Linked DNA regions of Homo sapiens: region 2 is linked to region 1. Evidence: fine-mapped expression QTL. A gene starts in region 1. The other region holds a variant in brackets. All regions are shown on one strand. Distances are between the middles of the regions.

Region 1 (2,899 bases):
TGCAGGGCCGAGCAGGCGGATCGCAAGAGAGAAATAGGCAAAGAACTAAAGCTGTGATGGAGGAATAATACGGAGGAGGCGTGGCCTGGGACCCCCCTCGCCTGTATCTACGGGAGGTTGAGGGTGGGACCCTAGACGCGGAACAACCAGAGTGGGTGGAGCATTGTTGGGGCGGGATCTGGGCATCTTGGAATAGCATTTAGGCGGAGCTGGGAGAAAGCGGGAGTGCTCTGGGAATAAGGACAAAACTTGGGAAAAAAATTGGGGATGAACAGCAGAGGGCAAGGTCCGAGAATCCCCAAGTGAAGCCTTAATAGAGGATTGGGGTGGGACAGGAAGGGGTGAGGTCTGTGTATGGGATACTGGGACCACCCCCCAACCAGGGGTGCGTCATGAGAGGAGCCGGCCAGGGTCCTAGAGACACGGCGGGGAAGGGGTGGTGGCCTCACCGTGCCCAGCCGCGTCTGCTCCAGCTCCTGCAGGCTGCGCACGTGGCCGGCGAGCAGCGGCTGCCTGCGAGGCCCGCCCAGCTCTGCTTCCACCGCCAGCACCTCCCGCGAGGCGGCGGCGAAGGCCTGGGTCACCCCGTGCACTGTGCTCCGGTAGCGCGCGAAGTCGTAGTCAGGGCCGCTGCGCAGGTACTGGCGGTGGCCTCTGCGGCATGTGGGGACCCTGAGGCCGCGCCCCCAGGCTCTCAGGCCCTGCACCGGCGCCAACCACCTGAAAGGCCCCCAGGAAGTGTCCCCAGACACCAGAGGGGAGGACTGGTAGGTAGGAAGGACGCTTCCTGACTCCCGCAGGGGAACGCGAGACAGGCCCACCCCTGCTCTTGGGGAGGAGAGAGAAGCCACGAAGAGTGAGTCGTCGGGTAGTGGGGACGTGCTGTGGGGCCTTTTTCGTGAAGGTGAGGACCCGGTGCCCCGAAATCCCCGCCCCATCTGACTCTGCAGCCACACAAGGACCCAGCTCCTCCTCCAGGCACGCCCGCCGAGAACACGCCCACGCCCGGAGCGGGCGGGGGACCGAACCCTGAGCCCCTCCGCGCCCCCACTCACTCCTCCAGTCGGCGGAAGCCCTGCGCGCGCTCAGCCTGCAGCTGGTGGATGCGCTGCACCAGCGTCCGGATCGGGGCGTCTTTCTGCGGGACAGGGGGCACGGCTGGGGCATGAAGCCCGCGCCCCTGGGTCTGCGCCGCCCGCCCCGCGCCCGTTCCCGCTTGGGCCTGGGCTCACCCAGGGCCACGCCGGCTCCTCGCGTCCCCGAGCTTCGGTGGCCTCCTCAGCAGCAGGCACTGCAGGGACCGTAGGCTCCGCCGCGGTCTCGGTGATCATGACTGCGCAGCCCTGGCCAGGCTCCGGAGCAGGCCCTTCCGCTGCGCCCGACGCCCCCTACAGGCCGGGAGGTCCACGGACCCCCTACCCTGCGGCCGGCCAGCCAGAAGGAAGAAAGGGGAACCAAGACCGCGGGCCGCCCAGTCAAGCCCACCCTTCTTGTTCCCGTCCAGGGCCCGCCTCCGATCGTGTTTTTCCTTGATTGTGCGGCTCTGAATACAGAACAGCTGTTAGCCTTGAGTTCGTTCCTATGCTTGTATCTCAACACCGACTTCCACTTGAAGCGGGTACTGAGCGTGGGTTTTGACGTTCAAGAGTGTTAAGTAAGCCTGGGCAACCTAGGGAGGCCCGATCTCTACAGAAAAACCAATTAGCCCGACATGGTGGCTCCCGCCTCCAGTCCCAGCTACTCGGGAGGCTGAGGTGGGAGGATTACATGAGCCCGGGAGTTGGGGGCTGCCATGAGCTATGACCATGCCACTGCACTCCAGCCGGAGCCACAGTGAGTCTGCCTCAAAAAAAGTGCAGTGGCTGGAACTCCACCAACATTAACAGAGATTCACTGGCTCTTCAGAGAATCACAGGGGTGAAGACAAGATTCAGTGACAGGGACGGTGTCAACAGCCCACCGAGTTGAATTGGGTGTCTTGTGTAATAGCCCTGAGCCTGGAGCATAGCAGGGGCCAGAACGACCTCAAAGTACAGAGGAGGCCTTGGAGCTTCCTGCTGGAGGGATACATGGGCTAGACAGAGCTTTGGAAAGCTTCCTCCTCCAGGGGCCCAGCCGGAGGAGCAGGAAGATGCTGGTAGCCTGACTTAGTGAAGAGGGACCAGCTCAGGTATGGGGTGACAGACACCAGCCTTTAAGGGGGAAGGGACTAGGCTGTTAGTGAGTTGGGAGTTTTTCTTGCCGATGGGTTCGTGGTCTCGCTAACTTTGAAGAATGAAGCTGTGGACCTTCGCGGTGTGTGTTACAGATCAAAAAGAGTCCACGGACCAGGAGAGTGAGCAGCAGGGCAGTTTATTGAACAAAGCGAAAGGAAAGCTTCCACATGCTGGAAGGGGACCCGGAAGGGTTGCCGTTGCTGGCTCCGGTGGCTAGGGCTCATATCCCTATGTTACCCCTCCCCTTTCTTTTTGTCCATTGAGAGTGGTTCTTTTTTCAATCCTCCTCTGGAGTGTTTTTTTTTTTTGTTTTTTTTTTTTTTTTTTTTTAGTGAGACAGAGTCTCGCTCTGTCGCCCAGGCTGCAGTGCAATGGCACGATCTCGGCTCACTTCAAGCTCTGCCTCCCGGGTTCACGCCATTCTCCTGCCTCAGCCTCCCCAGTAGCTGGGACCACAGGCGCCCGCCACCACACCCGGCCAATTTTTTGTATTTTTAGTAGAGGCAGGGTTTCACCGGGTTAGCCAGGATGGTCTCAATCTCCTGACCTCGTGATCCGCCCGCCTCGGCCTCCCAAAGTGCTGGGATTACAGGCGTGAGCCACCGCGCCCGGCCTGGAGTGGTTAATTCTGAATCCTTCACTCGATTGGTTAAGAACTCAAAACACTGAGTCACAGGGGTCTT
Region 2 (2,899 bases), 22 kb after region 1:
CTTCAAGGTGAGGTGAGGAAGGGACACAAGATCTGGGGTTAGGCCTACAGGAGCCCTGAGGGCGAACCTGGCTCACTGCACTACCTGGGCTAGGTATATGACCTCCCCTCAGCCCAGCTCCCTGCTCTGTAAACTGCTGTTGGAGGCCCTGGGATGGAGAGCTGTCGGCCTTTTCAACAGATGGTGTGAACCCAGGCTCAGCCTGCAGAGCCCTTTAAGGTGGTGGCAACATGGAATGGTACCCCAGAGAACACGCGAGCTCTCTAGCCAGACAGATGCGAACTCAAGTCCTGCCCCTCTGGGCCTCTGTTTCCCTCTCCATGAAACGGTGATACTCACAGTCCCCACCCCATGGGTGACTGTGGGTAACAGCTGGACATGGGACAGATCCTCGAAGCTGGGGCTCAGGGAAGGCGAGACGATGTCGGGGCTGGTGTCACATGAGCCCGTGCTCTGTTCTGAGATGGCTCATAATGCACACAGGGATAAGGATTGTCATGCTGCTTATCCACATTCTCCTGTGCGGCCTCCCCACGGGGCACGGACTCCCGTCCTAGTGCCCACTCTGCCAGCTGCTGACAGGACCAGGCCAGCACCCTGACCCTGCCCCCACCCCAGGTTTCCCCAGACCCACTGCCCATTACAGCCTGGTCTCAGTATCAGGCCCCAAGGTGGCCTTCCAGAAGCCTGCCCTGGGTGGAGAGTGCTGACGTGCTCGGGAGCAGGAACCCTGCGTGACACTTACGGCTGAAGGCCTCTGGGTGCTGCCTGGCCAGTTTCCCTTTCAGCGTCCTGCAGGGGAGAGAAGGCACACAGGGCTTAACCTGCTGAGCAGGTAGGCTGGGCCTGGTGCTGGCCACAAGCCCCTGCTGCCAGCTGAGGGCAAGGGGAGACGGGAGTGAGAACCCCCACACTGTTCATCACCTCACATCTTCACTCTCTCTAGGTGCTCGGCCCAGCAGCCACGGCCCTGACAGTCGCCCACCAGCCGGCCTCCAGCCCCAAGGTAGGCACCAACCCCCAACTAGTTAGACTCTGGGTGCTCTGAGCCTAGGCACTGGCTGGGGGCTCCCCCTGCGAGGCTGCTTCTTACATGTGGCCTCTTCTCTGATAAATTTTTTTTTTTTTTTTGAGACAGAATCTCACTCTGTCGCCCAGGGTGGAGTGCAGTGGTGCCATCCTGGCTCACTGCAACCTCCACCTTCCGGATTCACATGATTGTCCTCCCTCAGCCTCCCAAGTAGCTGGGATTACAGGCACGTGCCACCATGCTCAGCTGATTTTTTTGTATTTTTAGTAGAGACGGGATTTCATCATGTTGGCCAGGCTGGTCTCAAACTTCTGACCTCAGGTGATCTGCCTGCGTCAGCCTCCCTAACTGCTGGGATTACAGGCATGAGCCACTGTGCCCAGCCATTCCTGCCTTTTCATTATGTGTCTAGCACTATGTTACTTTTTTTTTTTTTTTGAGACGGAGTCTCGCTCTGTCGCCCAGGCTTGAGTGCAGTGGCGCGATCTC[G/A]GCTCACCTCCTGGGTTCATGCCATTCTCCTGCCTCAGCCTCCCGAGTAGCTGGCAATACAGACGCCCACCACCACGCCCAGCTAATTTTTTGTATTTTTAGTATTTTTTGTATTTTTAGTAGAGACGGGGTTTCACCATGTTAGCCGGGATGGTCTTGATCTCCTGACCTCGTGATCCGCCTGCCTCGGCCTCCCAAAGTGCTGGGATTACAGGCATGGGCCACCTCGCCCAGCCGCACTGTGTTACATTTTTTAAGAATAAATAAACTGCAAGGCTGGGCATGATGGCTCATGCCTATAATCCCAGCACTTTGGGAGGTCGAGGTGGATGGATCATCTGAGGCCAGGACTTCGAGATGAGCCTGGCCAACATGGGGAAACCCTGTCTCTACTAAAAAAATACAAAAATTACACAAAATACAAAAATTAGGCTCACACCTGTAATCCCAACACTTTAGGAGGCCGAGGCAGGCAGAGTGCTGGAGCTCAGGAGTTTGAGACTAGCCTGGGCAACACGGTGAAATCTCGTCTCTACTAAAATACAAAAAATCAGCTGGGCGTGGCAGCATGCGCCTGTAGTCCCAGCTACTCAGGAGGCTGAAGCAGGAGAATCGCTTGAACCTGGGAGGCGGAGGTTGCAGTGAGCTGACATTGCACCACTGCACTCCAGCCTGGGCGACAGAGCAAGACTCCACCTCAAAAATAAAACAACAACAACAAAAATTAGCTGGGTGTGGTACAGTATGTCTGTAGACCCAGCTACTCAGAAGGCTGAAGCACAAGAATCGCTTGAATCCAGGAGGCAGAGGTTGCAGTGAGCCAAGATCACGCCACTGCACTCCAGCCAGGGCCACAGATCAAGACTCTGTCTCGGCCGGGCGCAGTGGCTCACGCCTGTAATCCCAGCACTTTGGGAGGCCAAGGCGGCTGGATCACGAGGTCAGGAGATCGAGACCATCCTGACTACTAACACGGTGAAACCCCATCTCCACTAAAAATACAAAAAATTCTCCAGGCGTGGTGGTAGGCACCTGTAATCCCAGCTACTCCGGAGACTGAGGCAGGAGAATGGCGTGAGCCCGGGAAGCGGAGCTTGCAGTGAGCTGAGGTCGCGCCACTGCACTCCAGCCTGGGCAACAGAGCGAGACTCCGTCTCCAAAAAAAAAAAAAAAACTCTGTCTCGATCAATTAATCAATCAGTAAATAAACTTACGTCAAGATTTTATCCCAGGGTTGGAATTGTCCCAGACACTTAAGTGCGCAGTGAAGCCTTGTAAAACAAACAGAAATCTCCCTTTACCCTGGTATGTGAAGGAAACTGAGGCTCAGATGGGGAGGTGGAGGCAGAGGTCAGCTGGGCTGGGGTGGCACTGAGCACC

The links. PIP is the estimated chance that this variant, and not a neighbour inherited with it, causes the effect.
Region 2: its variant is fine-mapped to the expression of REX1BD in whole blood (INTERVAL, PIP 0.97).

The regions. Positions count from the first base shown.
Region 1 is chr19:18,587,234-18,590,132 of GRCh38, reverse strand. REX1BD (required for excision 1-B domain containing) reads right to left here and starts at 1,335. Exons shown (of 5, transcript NM_001100418.2): 1 at 1,233-1,335; 2 at 1,056-1,138; 3 at 450-720. The coding sequence starts at 1,331. RefSeq lists a silencer at 988-1,507.
Region 2 is chr19:18,565,025-18,567,923 of GRCh38, reverse strand. KXD1 (KxDL motif containing 1) reads right to left here. Exons shown (of 5, transcript NM_024069.4): 4 at 746-792. It also overlaps a transcript of UBA52 not described here. Among named protein-coding and RNA genes, the nearest start is that of UBA52, 5.4 kb to the left of the region's middle. The variant G/A (reference allele first, on the strand shown) is at 1,520.